Regions from separate parts of the Homo sapiens genome. Here region 2 is linked to region 1. The links come from fine-mapping of genetic effects on gene expression. A gene starts in region 1. The other region holds a variant in brackets. All regions are shown on one strand. Distances are from middle to middle.

Evidence for each region.
Region 2: its variant is fine-mapped to the expression of RBM15-AS1 in whole blood (TOPMed, PIP above 0.99).

Annotation. Positions count from the first base shown.
Region 1 is chr1:110,335,429-110,345,358 of GRCh38, reverse strand. RBM15-AS1 (RBM15 antisense RNA 1) reads left to right here and starts at 6,188. Exons shown (of 4, transcript NR_036595.1): 1 at 6,188-6,362. It overlaps RBM15 (RNA binding motif protein 15), which reads right to left and starts at 5,982. Exons shown (of 3, transcript NM_022768.5): 1 at 3,091-5,982. The coding sequence starts at 5,953. LOC124904276 reads right to left here. Exons shown (of 1, transcript XM_047437983.1): 1 at 6,356-9,930. The coding sequence starts at 6,924. The coding sequence ends at 6,418. RefSeq lists enhancers at 3,778-4,072, 3,588-4,153, 4,994-5,443, 4,815-5,553, 5,524-5,643 and 2 more and a silencer at 6,744-7,013.
Region 2 is chr1:110,278,867-110,292,009 of GRCh38, reverse strand. It overlaps RBM15-AS1 (RBM15 antisense RNA 1), which reads left to right. Exons shown (of 4, transcript NR_036595.1): 4 at 3,439-5,635. It also overlaps a transcript of KCNC4 not described here. Among named protein-coding and RNA genes, the nearest start is that of RBM15-AS1, 54 kb to the left of the region's middle. RefSeq lists an enhancer at 5,151-5,200. The variant G/C (reference allele first, on the strand shown) is at 6,444.

The sequences.
Region 1 (9,930 bases):
GCCTTAAAAAAGTGGATTTACATTTTTTATTTTTAAAAAAGCATTGTCAGTGAAAACCTGCTAATAGTTTTTAAATAAACCTAAACAATGTCTGACTCTGAAAGCAATAACCAAACACCTGACTCTTATTACTGGACCTAAAATGACCTGTAACTGAGTCAAGAAGGGCCAGAGTATATTTTACCTTCAAAAGGTGACAAATGCTTATAACCAGCCAGGCGATGGACATTTTAAGATGTAATCCTCAAAAGAAAAACTCTATCCACTCTCAGTTGAGAGTCAAAGTACACCAGAAATTTAAAACTTTGTGTGAAAAATTATTTATAGGAATCCCAACAAAATACTTAACCAAAAAGTTAAGCAGAACTATTGGCTAGGTATTGCTTGCTTAATTTTCCATAAAATTTGAAGCTGTGATCTAAAAGTCTTATCTTCACGTTTTTACCAATAATACTTAATAGTCATTAAATGATATCCTGAAGTTTTCTTTCCATTCATTTTAACTGAGTTCCAGAAAAATCAACTACATTAAAATAATTAAAGAAGAAAGATAGAAAAAAATTGGTTGTTACAAAGAACATTCAACGTTGGGATTATTAAATCCTGGCTAATGAGAAGTAGAACCGGTTTTAGACTTTTGCTTTCATTTGAATTCTTAAGGTTTAACTAGATACTTTATGGATATTATGAACCTGCACAAAAGAATGGGCAGTACAAATATGAGGTTCATGTGGACTATGGCACTCTGTAGGTAATGACCAACTAAACATAATTAGTTTTTTATAATACATACATTTAGAAATGGTATCAAGCCATTGTTTCAAAAACACTGAAGCACAAATTGCCCAGACCTAACAAAAGCGGCAATGTCAGGTAAAGATTCAAACAAACATGGAGCAAAAACACAGTACTCTTCTGTACGCTGTCACACTAACAAAAAACAAAAAACAAACAAAAAAAAAGAAAGTAAAAGAAAAGAAATAAAACACACATTTTGGATGACAGTAAAATTAGATGTCATGGACTTCACTCTCCAAAAGAGCAAAATCATTTGTCCAACTATCTCAACAAAAGATATTCAAAAATTAATGGTTAGTGAGTTTATTTAAACTGGAAAAATGTAGCTGGCCACAAATTATACTATGAGCCCACGTATGTAGACTCCACACTTGCATTAGTTTCTGAACAGGTGTCTACTCCAAACCAACCACAGCTTTTTGAAAGCAAGAAGCATCAAAAGTCTTCATTATAGGATTTCAGGTATTTTCCCAAGAGGCACAAGGACCTTCATGCTCATAGCCTAGAACCTTCCTTCTCTCAAAATGGCTAGTTTTTCCAGTTTAAAAACAAACAAACAAAAACCCCCACAAAACCTGCAAACTTAAAAAATTATAGATGCATAGTGAAAACCAAGAGGGATGACACAGCAGTGATGACACTTTTGTGCTGACATGCATTAGACACCTGTCATAATGGAAAATAAAAATTACATGACATTTCCCTGGGTTATTATTGGTGCTATTTCAAAACTACCAGCTTTGATAACAGAAAGAAAACAGTTGGGTTCTGCCAGGCTTCAAGTTAAGTCACTTTCATAGAACAGAAACATGACCATGATCCAGAAGGTCCAAAAGTCTCTAATCATAATTAAATATCAAGGGCCTTAGCTGAAGTCTTCAGCACTTAAATCAAGGGAGAAAAATATACTTACTAATGACCTGACAAATTAGGGGTGGGACAGAGGGGATAGATTAAAAAAAAAAAATCCATTACTGTTAAGCAGCAAAAGTCCTTGTTGAGAACCAGAGGTTGATATCATCTCACCTTTGAAAAAAAAAAAACTGTGAGGCTAAGTTAAATGATCCTGTATTAATTCCGGGTGTCTGGGAAAATAAAACAATTAAAAAAGGTTTTCCTACACTGACATTTCAATTCCGTAGCTGGACAGCAGTGAGAATATTGAACATAAAATTTCCAAGATGTTCAAAACATTTTCAATAATGTAATGTCACTACTGTTTAAATATGAAAATAAAAAGACAAGCAAAATTTTAAAAGAGCATGTCAAAGGCATTTTATGATGACTTTTTAAGAAATTCTGCAATCCAAATATGGCTGATTTAAATGCCCACTGAAATAAAAGATGACTATGAGCCTGCAGACAACTCTTCTTTCTATTATTGAAACCAGAAATTTGAATTGATACAAAAACAAAAACTCATCTTTGATGAAGAACACTTAGTTTCGAAATATGCACGATTAGAACTGTACCTGCTACACCTCTCTGAAAAAGTCAGTAAAAACACCACCACACACCAATAACTGACCAAAGAATTCTGATTTTAAAAGCACCTACTCACTTCTTGCATACTAGTGTAAGCATAAGACATATATGGTTTGTAACATAGTCCTTAATTTTTACTGAACAGTTACTGCTACAAACCAAAAGTGCATATATGGGATACAGAACTCTAGAACAAATGATTTAAAAAATGCATGTTAAAGCAAACTCTCTGGGAATAAACTGTATCTTAAGAAATACTCAAATACCTGATTAAAATAATTACATTGCTATACAATTTACCAGCATATCTTTGAGATCCCTGATCAAATTTCAGTCACACACATTTCTGGTAAAAGAATTATTTACCTACACACCAATCGAGTCATTTTTAGGTGGCTATTACTCTCTTTATATGGTCAGTGGACTCCTTTCTCCAAATTCTGACTTTTCAAAATTTTGGTTTTGTAACTCTGAGGATTTTTTAAGCTCAAGATTAAAAAAAAAACAACTGAATAGAGAAAAAAAATTACTCATAAGGGTGGGAACTCCTAATTAAAGCAAATCTGTCTGCCTGCCTGCTACCTTTAGGGCATCCCTTTCACTTAAAATAATAGCTAAACAAACAAAAAAATAGCTAAACTGTCCTGATTTCTATTTTAAAGACGTTTATAAAAATATAAAAAAGAAAATGCTACAACTAACAACTAAAAAGAAAATTGCATCTGATGCTGTATCCCATTACACATCACAAAACAGGAACCATGTCAAAGTAGTAAATACAAGTTACACATGGACTTTAGGACGCACCACGGACAATGATCATGACCAGGTAATCTTCTTCAGATTTGGCCAGTGCCTTGGCAGGGGAATCCAGGAACTGCTGGGAGAACTCACAAGGTGGGAAGGCATGAAGGACCCCGGTGTTTTCCTTGTCTTTGTTGCCCCCCACAGGGAGGCTGATCACCCCGGCTGCCTGCTTTTGCTTTAAATAGGACACAAGGTTCCTAAGTGGCCTCTGAGTAGAAGTGGCAGTGTCTGATGCAGCTGAGGAAGAGGAGGACCGGCTGTCAGAACTTCCAGGCACAGCCAAAAGAATGGCATAACCATTGGGCCCTGCTACTTTGATGCGTCGAGTTACTTCATCCAACTTGGGCTGGTCCAAACGGAGACGCTGAGTGATCTTGAGCTGGGCCACTTTGCCTCCAGTTGAACCCTCCACAAGAAGACTACTAGCCACTTGGAGGTCACCCTGCAACAGATGCATGTTGGAAGGAAAGTTGCTGTTCTTCAGTAGAAGCATGCCCTGCCAGGCCAAACAGAGTTTGGGAGAGGCTGATGCCACAGGGGCTGTCCCCCCATCCTGTTTCTGGGACGGGGACTTCAGCTTGGAGGAAGCAGTGCTGGTGCTAGGTGCACTCCCATCAGAGCGGTCTTCTTTTTTCAGAGGGCTTTTTCCCTCAGTGGGAGCAGTTGTCCGGTGCTTCCTATCTCGTTCAGCTGATGCAGAGTTTTTACGGTCTCGCTTGTCACCCTGGCTCTTCTCCAAACTACCTCGTCTGTCTCTGATTGGAGAGGGCCTTTCCAAGAGAAGACGGGAAGATCGATCATTGTCGCTGTTGTAACGATCCCGGCTACTGCTCAATTCTGGACTGCGGTCAGGAGAAGGAGCGCAGTGACGTTTTCGTGGGCGGTCACTCTCAGGAGACCTATCCAGATGACGTCCTCCACTCTCCTCAGGCAGCCTTCGCTTCCTAGGCTGGTCTCTGCTGCTGGGCAGATCTCGATCACCTCTGTCCCGGTCCAAGGACCAACCATCCCGCCTGCGATCTAGGCTATCCAGTGGCTCGTAAGCAGGCACAGAAGTAGCTGCAGTCCGAGTGCTGCGTTCTCGGACTGGGGGTGGGGGTGGCACCCAATCAGAGTCAGGATAAAGGTCCCTATCACGATCTCTGTATAGTAAGGGTGGTGTCCTATCCCGAGCACCCCTCAAAGGGTCTGGTGCCCGATGTCCAAAAGCATCTGTCACCAGCTCATAATGAGTCAAGGGCAGAGGCTGCAGATACTGCTGCTGGTAACGATGTTCGGTGTCGGCAAAGTCTACTCTAAGGCGTCGATCTGGGCCACCAAGTGGGAAGCCCCGCATATGGGTCCAGGCAGCATGCGCTGCATCCAGGCTTTCATACTGGATATATGCCCAACTATCACCTTTTCGGTAGTCTATGGTGCGTATGGTGCCAAATCGATCAAATTCTCGTGCCAGGGCAGCAAGAGGAACCCAAGGTCCCAGGCCTCCCACCCAGAGGCGGGTGGTGGGTGTAGCTTTACCATAACCAATTTTGATAGGATTCCGAATTATAATTTTGCCAGACATTGCTAATTTGGCCCGGTGAGACATATCTAAGTTCTCAAATTTGAGAAAGCCGTAAGTACTAGTCTGGCCGCGAGAAGGCCTCTTGATATCTACTTCTGTGATGACTCCAAAGCGATCAAACGCCCTTCTTAAATCACTCTCCGTTACAGTGATGTCTAGGTTGCCCAAGAAGAGCGTCCGGTTAGCTCGCTGATCATCCTCGGGTGAAATCTCATCCACTTCTCTGAAAGGAGCAGCACCTGCTCCAGCTCCCACCCTTGGCTCAAGACTGTATGCAGGGCGCACTCTCTCATAGAACGGGTAGTCTCTTTCTCTCTCCAGGTCTCGAGGCAATGGTGGCGGAGGTGGAGGGGGCAGGCGGCCAAGAGCCAACTGCTGCAGCCGGTAGTCTCTGTATCCCAAAGCAGCGCCACCAGGGGAAAGTGATCTCTGGCCTCCACCACCTCCAGGGGGGTGCCGGTGACCACCTACAGAGGCCCCGACCACACTGGCTGATGGAGGATAAGTATCTTTGTCTAAAGGGGAGCGGCTGCGGCGCCGGCTCACATACACAGCTTCTATCTTCAGAGGCCGGTCATAGAGCACCAGGCGGCCTCTGGCATGCTTGGCCGCCCGCGCGTCCTCTGGCCGCCGGAAGTTCACAAAGGCTACCCGCTCATCCCCGCTGCCAGAACCCGACAGATGACTGATTTTCACACTTACATCACCGAAGCGTTTGAACTCATGAAACAGGCCGTCCTCCACCGCTTCGTCACTAAGCTGGGACCCCAACTCGCTTATCTTCAGAGTCTTGTATTCCGCGCCGTCCCCGCCGCCGGGAGCTGAGGAGGCGGCCCCAGAGGAACGTGACTCCCCGCCTCCACCCCGGGAGCTGCTGCGCGATTCGCCCCCGCCCGAAGAATTTTTGGTGCTCGGGGAGCTATAACTATGCAAGCGGCTACTGGAGCTGCCCCCACCGGTATCATACTCGCGGCTGCCACCTCGACTGCTGGACTTGTCCAGGTGGAGACTCCGCCGCGACCCACCGCCGCTATCGGTCTTTCCGCTGCTGCTCCCATTGCTGCCACCAGAGCCCCCTAACTTCTTGCTCCGCTCACCGCGGGAAGTCGAGTCCTCACCACCACGGGAGCGTTTGGCCTTCACTGGCGAGCGCTCTTTTCCCTTCATTGTTGCGGGTCGTCGGAGGTCGTCTCCGCGGAGCTGAGTAACCCGCCGCCCCGCGCTCGTTTCACACAGCGGAACCGCACGCCGCCATCTTGGACTCCGCCGCGGCACAGGGTCCCGCCCCGCAGTCCTCATTGGCCAATTGCTCTCTCTTCTACAGTCTCATTGGGAAAATTATTTGTCTATCTTTACATCTCCCCGCGCTCCAGGAAGGCGCCCGCCCAACCACTGTTATTGGGTTCCCAACCCCCTAGTCGGAGTACCTCATTGGTTACATTTGTTGTCTATCTTAACGGTTCCTCGCGCCAGACTGTAGCTCCGCCCCTCGCACTCTGCGGTCACGTGACCCAAAGTGTTGAGGTGTTGATTGGACAAAAAGTCTGCCCTGTAACGGTACTTCTTGCTCAGTGACAGCAGCAACCCACCTCCTTATCCCTTTCATTGGCTTATAAACCCGTCCTTTAAACCACTATTTGGGAGGTCGGGCCATCAGTTTCGGCGTTTTTTCCAGAGAGGCAGGCTCACAGCGATATCGCGAGAGACGGTAAGCTCCCTCTTTCGACCCCCTTTTTCCAACTCCTCCGGCGGCTAAAAGAAGTTTAAATCTGATTGGATGTCGGCAAGGAAGTTGATAGGCTGAAATAACTGTCCATCACTCGCTTAAAGGGGTAGGCCTGTATAACGGAGGAGGCTGACTGAAGGTGAAAGACTAGAACACGTGCTTGCTGTGCGACGTCACTTAGATGTCGCGAGAGGGTGACTGTGCGCCAGCCCCGCCTCCCCGCGTTTTCGGCGTTCTCCCCACAAACATTTGTTAAGTTCCGTGGGGTGTTTGGCTGTGCTTCGGCCCTTGGAGTTCGAAACTTCTGAGCTCCCCGCCGTCGTACCTGTGCCGGCCAAGGGGCGGGGCAGGCTTTCCGGCTGTCGGGGCCCTCCAGTCCCTCAGGAAGCCGTCCTGGGACGCCTAGCGGACACCATTTTACGTCGCTGTGGTAGCTGAGTGAACAGCCGGGGGGAGCCCCGCCCCCCGCGCGCGGGAGAGCGCCGCCCGCGGTCACCTGGGCCCGCGGGGCAGAGAGTTCACGGTTCCTGCAGCCTCGGGTCATGCTGACGCCCCCGGGCGGTGCTAACACGTAACACGCGGGACCTCGAGAGCTAAGAAGCAGGGCGACTAAGACGCAGCCCTCGCCCAGGAGCCCGTCTCTCCCGCGAGCTACCCGTTCCCGCCCAAGTACTCCGGGTAACCGAGGGGAGTGACCGTCGCTCCCCGCCTCGTGGCCCGCGGGCGGAGCCGGAACTGTCGGGACACCGCGGACGTGTCTTTGGGCGGCATGTTTTATGTTGCGAATCTGTGTGGATTTTTAAATTCTGTATTCCCCTAAAATAGCAGTGTTTTTAATATGTAATGCTTCTACCCTGAAAATCACCAAGCGAAATTTAGGCTCCATGCAGATATGTCACTTGTTTTTCCCCCTGTGGCTTCTTGTATCCCTTGGCACTCTTATTGTGTGTTAAAAGCCAGCAGCACAGGCACCTTGCGGCCGCTCCAGATCCACCTCGTTTGGCTCCTTCAGTCGTTCGCCGTACAACTTTCCTTTCCATAGTGCGTTACTGTGGCGGACAGAGCACCTGTGAGAGGTGCAGGCGATGCCGAGCTTAGGGGGGTATGGCCTGTGCCCCAGCACTCGCCGGTTGCTGGAGGGACGCAGCGCTGAGGTCACCACAGCCTTTAGACTGTCTGCAGCCCTCCCAGGTTCGCGCCGGGGCGGAGGTTATGAGGATTCTTGTATTGATCCGGTCCTCAACCCTATTTCCCAAGATCCAATCTATAGTAGAGGGTGTGAGGTGTTTTTAAACGTGACATTTTTCAAGGTAACAATAATATCCCAAAAGCTGAAACCTAAACTTAAAAACTGTGTTAAGATTAGGGACTGTAACCTAAATTTAGCCTTGGCTGAGCCATCCTTCTTTTTGTAAATAATCGTGAGGAATGTGAAGCTGGAGGCCTTCTATCTCTTGATTAGATCAAAGAAACTCGAAGGAAGAAGCTCAATTGTAAAGCATAAAAATCCACAATATTGTAATGTGTAGACATCTTCATTGTATTAAAATGGGAAATAAAACTTCATAAGGCATAAAATAATGTGTATAATACGCTACCATTTGTGGTTTTAAAAATGTTTGTATTTATGAGTATGTACATTTAAAAAATATATTTTCATGGAAACTTTCTTGACAAATACACGGGAAATTGTTACTAGGATTGCCCTGAAGAGGTGTGCGAGGGTCTGGAGTAGGAGGGAGACTTTACTTTTCTTTGTAGAAATCTTTTGTTTCTACAAAGGGCGCTATTACTCCTTCAGTTTAAAAAATAACATTTTTAACTTTCCTTAAACTATTTTTATGGAAAAAGTTTAAAATATATAAAAGAATACTTTAAAGAACTCCCATGTGTACCCAACACCCTATTTCAGCAATTATCAAATCATGTCAATCTTGTTTCATCTGCATCACTCTTCCCACTCTTCTTTTCTCCATTATTTTCTTCCAGACTTACCTGATACATTTCCTGCCCCAGTTGTGGAATCAGCCATTTCTCCAGAGAGCTCTGGTTCCTTTTAGTGGGAGATGGTATTTAAAGATAAAAATCTGGATGCTGGAGGATAAAAAACACATGAACACATTATTTGTAAAAGCATGAAATAAAAAGTTATAGCTGGGTTTAAATCTGTTTCAAGGTTATATTAATAGACCACAAATGGAAATTGAAGTTAAGCCATTATCTGATTACTCAATGTAATAACCAATCGAGATAATAAACCAGGCACCAGAGTGACTTTTTAACCTAAATAGACCTGCTAAGGTGACTCACTGATCAAAGAAAAAGATAATGACCAAATCAGTAGTTTTCCAAACTTCAAGATAGGGGTTGAGGGAGCACAAGATTTGAGAGAAATAATTCAGGGAGATAAACAGACACCCAGTCTGTGTGAACATGCACCAGAGGCATGCCAAGTTTAGTGGCTTGCCACTTCAAATACCAGGGAGCTTGATGGAAGCTACTGCCTGCAGCTGGCTATAGTACAAAGGCTTGCCTAGGGGGACTGGAAATCTGCCTGGAGCCAAGAGTGCTAGTAAGTTTTATGGTTAGATGGAAAAGGCCTAGATTCCATTAAGAGTAACAGCCAAAATATTGCCTGTGATGTGTATGTGTGTGTGTGTGTGTGTGTGTTTCCACAACAAATGAATAAGTTGGATCCATGCTGTAGTTAAAATAAGTGATTGTTTTCATTTCCTTTGTGTTATTGCCCCCAAAATTACCCCCTCCCCTGGCTTCCAGCAGATACTACCTGAAAATCCTTTGTGTTCTTTAAAGCAGTGGTCCCCAAACTTTTTGGCATCAGGGACCAGCTTCATGGAACTGTTCCACCTCAGATCATCAGGCATTAGATTATCATAAGGAACACACAACCCACATCCCTCACATACTCCATTCACAATAGGGTTAGCCCTCCTCTGAGAATCAAATGCCTCTGCTGATCTGTCAGGAGGCAGAGCTCAGGCAGTAATGCTCCCTCCCCTGCCCCTCACCTGCTGTGCAGCCAGGTCCTAACAGGCAACTGACCATTACTGGTCCACAGCCTGGGGTCTGGGAACCCCTGCTTTAAAGCATAAAGCTGCTTAGTGAGTTTTTTATTTTTTTTGTTTTTTCTTTTTTGTTGTTTTGTTTTGTTTTTGTTTTTGTTTTAGAGACAGGGACTTGCTCTGTCACCCAGGCTGGAGTGTAATGGTGCAGTCATAACTCACTGCAACCTCAAATTCCTGGGCTCAAGCAATCCTCCCGATTCAGCCTTCCATGTAGCTAGGACCACAGGCACACACCACCACACTAAGCTAATTTTTTAATTTTTTGTAGCAATGGGGTCTAGCCATGTTGCCCAGGCTTATCTCAAACTACTGGCCTCAAGTGATCCTCCTATCTCAGCCTCCCCAAAGCACTGGGATTACAGATGTGAGCCACTGCACCCAACCAAGTTAGGTTTTATCCTCTGTTTACATGTGTGCTTTAGAGAGGGCACATGTGTAAAAGTGGATAAAAGTGACCCATGGTT
Region 2 (13,143 bases), 55 kb after region 1:
CAGTGCAGGGGCTGACGAGGCAGGCTTGAGGATGCTCTGGTCACGTGGATACTAGGGCCAGAGTCCTCTTGGCTCAGGCACTGTGTAAGGAAAGAAATGTAACTTCCTTATTGCCTGTCCACTCTCCCTCAAAACAAACACTCTTTTCTGTTTAAATAGTAGGAGACCACCCTCTCCGCAGGAGATAGCTAAAAAAGAAAAAATAAATATATAATAGGAGACAATATCTTGAGAAGGTGGAAATGAGACCCTCCCCCGCCCCAGGGGAAAGTGATAGGAAAGCTCAGCTAGAAAGCTCCCGAGAGAAAGTGATAGAAAACAGCCTGGACCAGGGCCAGAGAGGAGCAGGAGGAGAGAAGATCCATCAGTGTTCGTGTCCTAGTGGGAAAGGAGGAATGTACTGACAGCTGGGATGTGATGGCAGACTGGTCTAAGGGTAGGGCCTGCGGGGAGAAGCTGCTAGCAGAGGGCATATGGGGTGAAGGGAATAGGGGGAGCAGAGCTTCAGGTAAAGGAGGAAGAGGTACTGTTTCTCCATTTCCCTCTGGGCTTTTGCTATTTAATTGAGTAATTCCTGGCCCCAGGGCAACTCTGAGAATTTCTCTGGCTTGCAGTAGAGTTGTCACTTTATTACCTTCAGATTCTGTTTGGAGTTTTTCCTTCTGAATTTCCTCAAATGGCCCAGCTTTGCCTTGCCATTTTGGTGGGTTTTATTTTCTCTGCCATCTAATGTCCCAGGGGTCTCCAGACAAGCACACCTTTCTGAAAGCCTCTGGGGGGTGCCTTTCTCTGAAAGCCTGGGCCAGGCCTGGGAAGACTCACCCACAGGCTGAGATTTGAGACCTTGTCCCCCACCCCTATGACCTTCCTAAAACACAAAACTCCCAGGCAGTGTCTGAAATGCCTCGACATGAAGGGAGCTAATAGTAATTTCTCAGAAGAACATAGGCTCTTCTTTAGTCCTTGGATTTAAAGCGCAGATTCCAAGGAGGATAAATTGTCTTGCCAGGCTGGGTAAATCTGTTGTCAGGCAGCTTTTCTCCACTAAAAAAGAGATTAATCTGATTACACCTATAGTCACCTGGAACTGTTCCATCTCTGAAATCTTTTTTTTTTTTTTTTTACAACTTCTTGTCCAACAGACACCTCTAAAATCTTAATTTTAAATATACCACCCTCAGGATATAAATCTGTTCATTCAGCTTTTCCCCAAACCTGTCATTCTTCCTCAAGACCTTCAGCCCTAGACCTCTCTGAGTCTACCAGTTCCTCCTGATGTCCCTTCCTTTCCTGCCTGGGTCCCTACTCAATGGTTGACCATTTGACCTAACCTTCACCAGCCCCTTGTATTCTGACTCTGTGTTAGTTTTCTGGGGCTGCCATAACAAAGTACCACAAGTTCAAGGGCTTAAAACAATGGGAAATGTATTCTCTCATAGTTCCAGAAGCCAAAAGTCCAAAATGAAGGTGTTGGTGGGGCCATGCTCTCTGTGACGGCACTGGGGGAGAACTCTTCCTTACCTGTTCCCGCTGCTGGTGGCTCCTGGCCTTCCTTGGCTTGTGGCAGCACAGCTCCAATCTCTGCTTCCTTCTTCACATGGCCTTCCTCCCTGTGTGTCTGTGTCCTTTCCTGTCTCTTATAATGACACCTATCATTGGATTTAGGACCCACCCTAATTCAGTATGATCTCATTTCACATCTGCAAAGACCCTGTTTCCAAATGAGGTCACATTTCAAGGTTCTGGGTAGACATGAATTTTGGGGAGACACTATTCAACCCGCTGTAGCCCCATTTTTCCTTCTATTGCGTTCCAAATTCCCCAAGCTTAGCTCAGGCCCACAGTTGGGCATCTATCTTCCTTTTGGCCTTGGGGCAGCTGAGCTCTGTTCTTGGCTCCTCCTGCTCTTTGCTGGTTTCAGTGCTTCTCAGCAAGAGTGCCTCCTACAGCCTCTTCTTTCTTTTCCCTCGGGAAGTAGCACCCCAGAGATGGCTGAGGTCTGGGGCAGGAACTCCTCCAAATTCAAACCTTAAGGCCAGGCACAGTGGCTCATACCTATAATCCCAGCAATTTGGGAGGCCAAGGCAGGAGGATCCCTTGAGCCCAGGAGTTTGAGACCAGCCTGAGTGACATGGTGAAACCCCATCTCTACAAAGAATACAAAAATTAGCTGGGCATGGTGGCTAATTTTTGTATTCTTGGCGCACCTGTGGTCCCAGCTAGTCAGGAGGCTGAGGTGTGAGGATTGCTTGAGCCAGGAGGCAGAGGTTGCAGTGAGCCAAGATCGTGTCACTGCACCCCAGCCTGGGCAACAGAGTGAGACCCTGTCTCAAAAAAAAAAAAAAAAATCCCATCTTAAGACCCCTACAGATGTACCATTAGTTTCACCTTTTCCCCCCTTTCCCATCCCATTGAAGGCCATGTGTTTCTGCTCTTCTTGGAGGCTATTCAGGCCCTCACAGCACTTGCCTGGTATACAGCAAATTATCCTGACTGTGTTTATCTGCTTCCATATGCACCCTACTCTTATGACTCTCATACCACTCTTCTGCTTAAAACCATTCATTCATTCACTCTTTCATTCATTCATGTGTTTGTTGCATATATATTGAGTGTCTGCTATGTTAGTACTCTGGCCTCATCTCCCACAACCAATGAGATCATTGACTTTTCAGAACTTACAGCATAGAAAGTTTTCCATGGCGGTCCTATAGGATTTCCATTCTAAAGTTTACATTCTTTAGGGTGGTGGATAACCCCCTTAACCTGGCCCTAACCTACCTCTGACTTCTGTCTCCCATTGCTCCCATCTCTAGCCCAGCCAAACTATTACTCAAGCCAGGCTCTTACACTTCTGTGCTGTGGTGCTTTCAGTCTAGTTGAAATGTCTCTGCCTTTTGCCTGCCTGGAAAATCCCTAGTTGTCTTCAATATTTAGTTCCAATGTTACCACCTCCTAGGAGCCTTCCTTGACAATCCTGTCCTGGACTCTGTCTTTTTTGCCACATAAATCTCTTATTGTGTGAATCATGCTGCCTTGCAATGATTTGTTTACATGTCTGTCTCTCTTTTCCCTTGAAGTTAAGGACAATAATTTATTCATTTTATATTCTCTATATCTGGCATAATGTAGATGTTTAATAAAGTTTAAGTGCTTAATAAAAGAAGTGGTGGAAGACCTCAATTCATCTGAGAGCAGAATCTGCCTAGAAGAGTTGGAACTTCTCCACCCTGCTCCATCCTCTGTACCTGACCTGTGTGTTCTGGGCTCCCCACGGCCAAGGAGCATCAATGGGCTAACAGAGTGTAATGGGCTGAATTGTGTTGGCCCCAAACTCAAATTTTGAAGTCCCACCCCTCCCTCATTCTATGGCCTTGTTTGGAAATGGGGTTGTTGCGATGTAATTAGTTGAGATAAGGTCTTATTATATTTGGGTAGGCCCCTACTCCAGTATGATTGGTGTCCTTATAAAAAGGAGAAATTGGACACAGACACCCTACCAAGAAGAACACTATGTGAAGATGAAGGCAGAGATCAGGGTGATGCCTCTACTTGCTGAGAAACTCCTACAGTTGCCAGCCCACCACTAGAAGCAAAGGAAGAAGCACAGCCCTCAGAAGGAACCAACCCTGCTAATGCCTTGGTCTTGGACTTGCAGCCTCCAGAACAGCGAGCCAATACATTCCTGTGGTTTAAGCCACTGACTGTGGCACTTTATTACAGCAGCACTAGGAAACTCATACAGGAGGTGACAGTGCTCAGATGAAACAGGACCTTCCACTTCCATGGCAAAGCCCTCATCTTTCGTGCCCATGCGCCATTTGATCTGCACACAAATCACTGAGCAGGTTCCTCAGCTATTATTATCCCCACCTTTCAGATGGAAAGAACTGAAGCTCAAGAGGGCCAAAGAAATTTGGCTATGGCTTTCTTTATTTTCTTTTTCATGGGCAGAAGTAGATTTCAGTTTTGGTCCCTTTCCACTACCATATCAGGTTGCCTTAAGGCAACTTTGAAAAGTCTAAAATATTAAACAGTTTGTGAAGTTATTATCATTATTCATAAAGGACAGCGCGAGGTTAGTCTTACCCTAGAGAGCCCCATTGTTGGCCCAAAGCATCTTGCCAGGAGCCCTATAGGACCATGTTTTCAAGGCCCCCAAAGAGCACAGGGCTATTGGTCCATCCCAGCTCCTGGAATGGCTCATTGTACCCACCCTGCCTCCAGCTGAGGAGCCAGGGAGAAGCACTGACCCCTGATCTTGCTATCCCTTCCATTACACTCTTGCCAGAGGAGCTTTTTTCAGGGGTGGCCGCTTCCCTCTCCTCAAGAGAATTCTGGGGACCAACCAGCTCAGGCCTGCTGTTGGCCTCAGGGTCACATCTCACCCAGACACCCCCACCATTCCCTCAGGTCTAGGGATGCTGCTCCCCTACCATGGGATCTTCTTTTTATTTTTATTTATTTATATTTTCCTTATGCCTAGTGTAAAGGGATTTCTTTTCTTTTTTGTTTTTGTTTTTTTTTTGAGATGGAGTCTTGCTCTGTCACCCAGGCTGGAGTGCAGTGCAGTGGCGCTATCTCGGCTCACTGCAACCTCCACCTCCTGGGTTCAAGTGATTCTCCTGCCTCAGCCTCCCAGGAGCTGGGATTACAGGTGTGCCACCACATTTGGCTAATTTTTTTACTTTTAGTAGAGATGGGGTTTCACCATGTTGGCCAGGCTAGTCTCGATCTCCTGACCTCAGGTGATCCACCCGCCTCAGCCTCCCAGAATGCTGGGATTACAGGCATGAGCCACCGCTCCCAGCCAGGATCTTCTTTTTAAAGCTATCACCACCCACTCTCATTCCCCAGGACTCTCCTCACCCCTCCGGCTGCAAAGGCAGCTGGTGTCCCTACTGGCTCCTTCCTTTCTGCCCCTAAAGACAGGCACACAGGTGATTTTCCTTTTAAGTGTTTTTCTGTGGATTACTGCGGGGAAATTGACAGGGGCTACAGGGGCTGATAAAAGGAATAATCTTTGATATTCTTTCAGTTGGGTCGCTGATTTTCTTGCTGGGCTGACAAGAGCAATCTTCCCTACTTGGAATCTTGGTTTTATTCCTTAGCATGGGCCTTATCAAACCTACTTTTTAATGAAGGGAGAATGAAGAAGCCATTGAAGCAGACCTCTAGCTGCCAGTCAGGTCTGCTCTGAAGGCTGCCTATCTGCGGGGACATGTGACTTCTGGGGCTTTCCAGATTAAGTAATGCTCACCCCACATGTCTGAAATTCTCCAAACACTATTCCGGCCCTGCTGTGATTCTTAGAGCAGAGGTTCTTTGCCTTTTTAGTGTAATGGATCCCTCAGCAACTTGGTGAGCCCTTCTCAGAATAAAGTTTCTAATGCAGAAAGTAAAACACATGGGATAATAAGGGAAGTCATGTCCTTTGAAATCCTTATCAAAAATATTTTTCAAATTTTGTGATATAATAAGTTTGGTTGCTATTATATAGCATAATATAACTTCATATCTAATAGCTATTGTTATTTTGAAGTAGTGGTGAATATATATGCTATTTTGAGATGTCTAAAACAACTGTAATGTGTTACAAAAATATCCATGATTTCTATCGGTGACAAAGTCAAAAGTATCGTGAATACGTCTGTGATTTGCAAGCTACATCCAAAATGGAAGGAAATCCTAATGTTTGGTTAGTGATTGATAAAAATAAAGATGTGGGCGGGCGCGGTGGCTCACGCCTGTAATCCCAGCACTTTGGGAAGCCAAGGCGGGCAGATCATGAAGTCAGGAGATCAAGATCATCCTGGCCAGCATGGTGAAACGCCGTCTCTACTAAAAATAAAAAAATTAGCTGGGCATGGTGGCGTGTGTCTGTAGTCCCAGCTACTTGGGAGGCTGAGACAGGAGAATCACTTGAACCCAGGAGGCGGAGGTTGCTGTGAGCCGAGATCACACCGCTGCACTCCTTGGTTTCCTTGGGATAAAATGGGGATATTAATGATGATTTCACAGGGATACAAAGATCAAGGGAAATAGTCAAGTGTTATATCTTGTTCATGTATCAAAATGGGCTGTGACCTCCTTACAGTGACTATCATCAGTCAGAAGCCTCAAGGGATGCTTTCCCAGACAGAAATAGTCTTGTGAATATGCTTAATTTGTTTATTCACAAAACATTTATCAAGCACCTACTGTGTGACAAGCATGGTACTTGCAGTGAGAGAATAAATTTGCAGAGCGAGACTCCGTCTCAAAAATAAAAATAAAAATAAAAAAATAAAGACGTAATACTATTTTTCCCCCATTGAGCTCATGGGCCCAGATTAAGAGCTCCTGCCCTGGATCTGTGCATCTCAAACTTCCATGTGCTTCTGAATCATCTGGCCTCTGTTAACATGCAGATTCTGATTCAGGAGGTCTGGAGTAGGCTCAAG[G/C]CTCTGCATTCTTGACAAACTCTAGGGATGAGTTTGTCAAGCTGGCTCCTGAGATGGGCACAGTCTGGAACGTATGGTACTGGGTAATAGTCACCACCTGGAACCATGATGGGAATCTGAGAGCAAGGGCATCAGCTGCTGGGGCCCGAGGGTGGGTTGGGGCCTTAAAGTGATTCCGTGAACTTCACAAGCTTCGTGGCAGTCTTGTGGTGACAAGGCCATTCCAGCATATCTCCTGATGAGGATGCAGAGGACACTCTAACCTGGAATACATTCTCTCCACAAAGCTGAAGGGAGCCTGCAATCTTTTTAATGCTCCAATTAGAGCCTGAACACAAGACCTTTCCTTTTGTCTGGTGAAATCAGGCTGGGCCAGTTACATGAGACTTGACTAAAGGCTTAGGAATAACAGAGAAAAAATAAATGCAGGCAATAGAATATGACCATAGAACATGACTTCAAGACACCCTGCCCACTCAGCAATAGGCTTTAAAGACAATCTTTTGTCCCTTAGACAGAAGGGCTGGACCTTTAGACGTGAAGCCCAATGAGAGAGGCAGCAGTCATTGTCAGAACATCCCTGAGGGGAGTATGAATCCCTGGGTTGGACGCAGTGAGGCCCAGGTCCCCTTATATGCTGGTTTTGGAGGTCTGGGATCTTATTAAGAGAGATGGCAGGTCTCCCTGGCCCACTGCCCCTTTCCCACTTCCTGATTGCTGCTTACCTCAAAGTGGTGGATGCTGCCTTTGCACTTAACTTTCCAGGAGGCCACACCTACGTGGGGCATTCCCTCTGCTTCCTGAATTCTAGTCTGAGAATCCTCTTTGTCTCCATTATGGGCTCTTTCATCACTATTCACCCTATTGAAGGAGATACTCCTTTTACTCACCCAAACATTGTAGCCTTAAACTCACAGTCATGTTTGAATACAACACATTACATTTAATAACCATGCAAGAAAATCACACACACAGTGCAAGAGGGTCTAATCTGTACCAATCTTGATTTTGCACTTGTAATCTATCCCTCTCTGGAGTTTAGTTGAGAGCATGATCTTTGCAGCCACTCAGATCGGGGTTCTAATTATACCATATACAAGCTGTCTGACCTTAAAGAATTTGATTAGCTCAGTGTGCTAATCTGCAAAATGGGAGTAGTAAAAGTGTCTACCTCATTTGACTATTGTGTGACTTCAATAAAATGATACCTGCAATCAGTTTCCTCTCTGGCACACAATAAGTTCCCAATATTAGTTGTCAATGTACTACCCTCACCTCTCACGGTAAAGTAATTATTTCAGCATTTAAGAAAATTTATTCTCTCACTGCAAGTACCATGCTTGTCACACAGTAGGTGCTTGATAAATGTTTTGTGAATAAACAAATTAAGCATATTCACAAGACTATTTCTGTCTGGGAAAGCATCCCTTGAGGCTTCTGACTGATGACAGTCACTGTAAGGAGGTCACAGCCCATTTTGATACATGATCAAGATATAACACTTGACTATTTCCCTTGATCTTTGTATCCCTGTGAAATCATCATTAATATCCCCATTTTATCCCAAGGAAACCAAGGCTCATGGAGGCTTAGTGTTGTGCCCAAAGTAACACAGTTAGCAAGTGGTTCCATTTAGTGATGCCTCAGCAGAAGCCCAATGTGCCCTGAAATAGCATATGAAGTCTGTCTGAGATCCGGGGGCATGACTTATGATTCATAAAATAACTGTGTAGCTAGGGAGCTACAGAAAGAGATTAACAGAACCTGGGACTTCAGTCATTTTCAAGAAAGTACAACAGCTAAGCATTAACAATTCATAGAAAAGACCCACTCTAAATGATGCTTTGTAAATGCATAATGAAGAGACTGGGAAGTACCCAAGTCCAAAAAAAGTCGTCAGGACTAAACGTAGCTAAAGAGAGCTGGGGCCCAGTCAGTAGTCCCCAGTCTGACTGAAGGAAGCCTAGGGCAACTGAAGATCTGGGTCTGCTAGGCGTCCAGAAAAGGGGCAGTCAAATAATACAACCAGTCAGTGTGTCTCCACTTCCACTGAGAGAGACAAGTGGCTCTGGACCAGACATCGTTAATCACAATTTCCTATCCCCTGACCTAATGTCTCTTTGTTCTGAACTCAGTAAGCAATCTTCTGATTATTAGTTTTCTGGGTAAGCTTGGTACCAAAAAGGGAATACTTGGTAGGAATACTCACCATTTTACATTTACCGTGGGCTCCTTAGTGCTATGGTTTGAGTTTGACCCCACCAAAATGCATGTTGAAACTGATCCCCAATGTGGCGGTGTTGGGAAGTGGGGCCCGGTGACAGGTGGGGACAGATCTCTCATAAATGGTTGGTGGTAGTCAGCGCTTGCTCTCTGTGAGACTGAACTAGTTCTCACAGGAATGCTCCCTTGAGAGTGGGCTTTAATAGAACCAGGACACTCCTTGAAATTTACCTCTTTGCACATGTCCACTTCCCCTTTGATCTTCCACCATGTCTTAATGCAGCAAGAAAGCCCACACAGAAGCCAAGCAGATGCCAGCACCATGCTTCTTGAACCTCCCAGCCTGCAGAACCATGAGCTAAATATACCTCTTTTCTTTATAAATTACTCAGCCTTGGGTATTCTGCTATAGCAACACAAAATGAACCAAGACACTCAGTCTCTTAGAAGTTTAGTGACTGTGAGTCAATCTCTCTTAAGTCATGTCTCCCAGTTTTTTACTGGACTCAGGTTCATCAGTCTCTTAGGGATTTAGTGACTGTAAGTCAATGGTTCTTGAACCTGAACAACTACGAGCATGCTTATAAATCCAATGTCTGGAACTGCAAAGCCAAGCAAGGGCCATCCCCTGGTCCACAGCAACCCTTCGAAGAAGGTGCTTCTACCCTGGGAGACACCTCCCCACTTACCCACAGATGCCTGTAATGAGATCCCTCCATCCTCCAGCCTCTGGCCACATGCCTGCAGAGCAGAGTGGTGTTCACAGGTCACTTCAGTGGGAGCACAGTGCTTCCTCAGCAGAACTGAGAGCTGACAGGGGTGCAAAAATAACAGGCTTATTGGAAGAGAGCAACATTACAGACACTCAAGCACCCCTAAGGTAGAGGAAAAACAGAAAAGCTCTCATCTTTTTTCCTACCCATGGTCAGACATGTAAGAGCCTCGCTCCTCCCTATAGGAAGAGAAAGAAGCAGAGAGATGACAGGTGGAGTTAGATTTTCAAGGACACAGAAGGATTTGTAAACACTGGAGGCTGTCTCTCACTGAGGGAGAAGTCATCACAGGTGGGGCAGAGTCCTCCAGCTCCACTCAAGGGATGACATTTTCCTTTCATCTCTTTCTCCCCTCTGGGATCCAGGGAGTGATTGAGATAATTTACCATTTAATGTGGGCAGATGGCTTAATTAAGCTAAAGCGGAAGGCATTAACAGTGGCACTGAGTATGAGAATGACTCGGGGGTGGGACCCTGGGAGCCACCTGGCAGATGTGTCCTCCTCTGCCCTGTCTCCTGGACTGGTCCCTAGGCACTAGGGTGCAGGGTGCTCAGTGGGTAATTTGCCTGCTTGGGAATTTAGGCTCCTGGTTCCCCTGCAGCCTCTGCCAGCGCAGCCTGGGAAGGCCCCGGCTCACACATTGGGAAATGCCTCTGGTTTTGTGGCCAGTCTTCAGGTCTAGGGACAGCAGCAGCAGCAGAAGCCAGCATTGCTGGACTCTCCCTGAGGCTGGCTGGGTTCTGAGTGATCAGTCATCCATGAGATTGAAGCCAAGTCCCTGCTCTCAGAGAGATCATACTTAGGTGGGGATACCAAATTCCTGGACCTCTGCAGGCTGGGCCGGAGAGATTCTAGCCCTTCTCCTAAAATTTATAGATGAGCAAACTGAGGCCTAGACAAGGGAAGCAACTGGCTCACCATGAGCCACAGAATAGGCATGAGAGCTCAGCTCCCCAGCTCCTGAGCTGTAAGTGCAGTATGTGTGTGTGTGTGTGTGTGTGTGTGTGTGTGTGTTTTTACATATGTGGGGAGTCAGATAAAGAAAGCACAGCTCCTCTAATTCCCCTTCCCCCTTCCCGCCCCCATTGCTATCTTCCTCAGTCCATGGGTTCCTGTCAAGTCCTTTCCCATCTCTGTATTTATGTCTGAAGAGAGGAGTGGGAGCCCCCAAATAGGTAGTAAGATTTCAGATTTCACTCATTCCAAGCCTGGAGCTCCACAGCCTTTGGAAACAGGTGTAGGGTGGCCCCACATCATTTCCTGGGTGAATTCTGCTTCCACAGCTCATTAACCATATCCTGTCTGCAGCTGGCAAGTCTGGGAGGAGAAACCCACAGCAAACCACCCTCCTCTCAGTCCCCCTTCCCCGCTCCAAGCACCTTAAAATGATTGCTTTGGCCCAGAGCCAGGGAAGTGATGAAGTTTTCCAAATTATGAGGCAAGGTTTCTTGTCTCATTAGCTTCTTTACCTTGCTATCCAGAAGCCCCCGCACCACCACCACCACCACCACAGGGAGCCTGAACCTAATACCCCCAGGAGGATCTGAGTGACTTGGGGCAGGATGCTCACGGTCCTGTCCTCAGGGATGCAACTGTTTGCTTCGAGGAGGGCTCCTGGAGAAACTAAGCTGGGTAAAGATCACTGGGCAGCTCTGGGTAGGGAATGTGACACAGCAATTTGGTCTACGTGGGGCCAGGAATTTCCACTGGGAATAGCAAGGCAGCAGACCAGGGGATGGTGTGGGAGGTGGCCAAGGATGGTAGATAGAATTGCTACATAAAATACAAGACACCCAATTAAATATGAATTTCAGATAAACAACAAATAATTTTTTAGTATTTGTCCCAAATATGCCATACTTATACTGAAAAAAAATTTGTTGTTATTTGAATTGCAAAGTTACCTGGCCATCCTGTAATTTGCTAAATCTGGCCACCCAAATGTTGGGGTAGATAACTAGGCGATGGTGTAGCAGGAGATTAGGGGATTGTGGGCAGCGGACCAGGCTAGACTCACCTGGGCCTCTGAGCTGGGCCTCTGTCCTCAGGGGTTTCGCAGAGTTGTAGACTGAGGACCTGTTTCCTATCCAGGCCAATTTCACGGGACTTGTTTCCGCCTTCCCTAAGGTCTCAGGGAAGACACCTTCCCTTAGCTTCTCCCATTGCCACTCCCTCCCCCAGAGTCTTCAACCTTGGCAGGGAGACAGAGCACAATCTCCTCCCACCCTGTGGCCACCAAGCACAAGCACGCAGAATCTCTCTGTTTGAAGGGCTTTACAAAGACCAGCTTTGGAGGCACACTGGCCTAGGTATGAACCTGAACTTAGTCGCCCTCTAGCTGGCCATCATAGGCATGTAATTAACCTCTCTGTGCCTCGATTTCTGCGAAATGGTTAAAAAGAGAACCAACCTATTGTGATCATCTAGTGGGTCAATGTTTACAAAGCTGATGGAACACAGCACTCAATAAATGATAGCCTAAACATTCCAGCCGGGTGCGGTGGCTCACACCTGTAATCCCAGCACTTTGGGAGGCCAAGGCATGTGGATCACAAGAGATTGAGACCAGCCTGGCCAACATGATGAAACCCCGTCTCTACTAAAAATACAAAAAATTAACTGAGCGTAGTGGCGGGTGCCTACTCGGGGAGGCTGAGGCAGGAGAATCGCTTGAATCCGGGAGGTGGAGGTTGCAGCGAGCTGAGATCGTGCTACTGCACTCCAGCCCGGGCAACAGAGTGAGACTCCATCTCAAAAAAAAAAAAAAAAAAAAAAAATTCCTAAAGCCCACAGGGAACCAGGAAGGGGATAATAAAAAAAAAATTAACATGGAGAAGTGACACAGGTACCAGATTCTTTCAAAGCTCTCTCTCATAGCCATTATCACTCTTTCAGGAATAATGGAAAACATCAGTCCTGCATTCCCCTTTTACATCTGAGAGCAGAGCTCACTATATCATCTTTGCTCTTTCAAATCTCTCCTTTCCCAGGATCACTCTATCCAGCATTAGTCCAGATGGAAAGCTATGAATTGGAGTCCATTCCAATTTTAGGGAGTCAGGTGGGGAGTGTGCATCTCAGGGAGACCACATGGGAGGCTCTTCATTCATTCCACAAATGTTTATTGGGTCTCTCCTGTGTATACTGGAGACAGACAAGTGAATGAGACAGAACTTGCCCTTGCCCGCAAGGAACTTACAATCTAGTTGAGAATCTCATTTCATTCATTATCTCTCCCAACCCTTATTATCTTCACTTGGATGGTTCAGAGAACAGGATGGCGAGTTGGTTAAAATCAGAATGCCGACTCTATCAACTGGAAGTGGCTTTGTAGAGAGCCATGTTTAGCCATGCTCCAGCTCAATGGGGAAAGGTTTTGTGATGATTAGTGATGTCTGCCATGGGTGCAGGAAAGAGAAGTGGCACAGATGTTCCACTGATATGCACATCAAGCCTTTCCTTGCATTTATATCCTGGAAGAAAAGCCCACAACTTGAATCTCTTTAGGACTATGAATCCAAGCCTGGTGGGTGGAGTGATGAAGAGCTTCCCCACCCCTGGGGAAGGTGAGTCTTCAGAGCCGGCAGACCTAAGTCCCAGAAGAGGAAAGAAATAGACATGAGACGGAAGAAAGGTTGCAGTTGGGCCCCTGAGTGGCATGCTGACAGACAGGAACAGAGTTCACCAGATAATGAGAGGAACC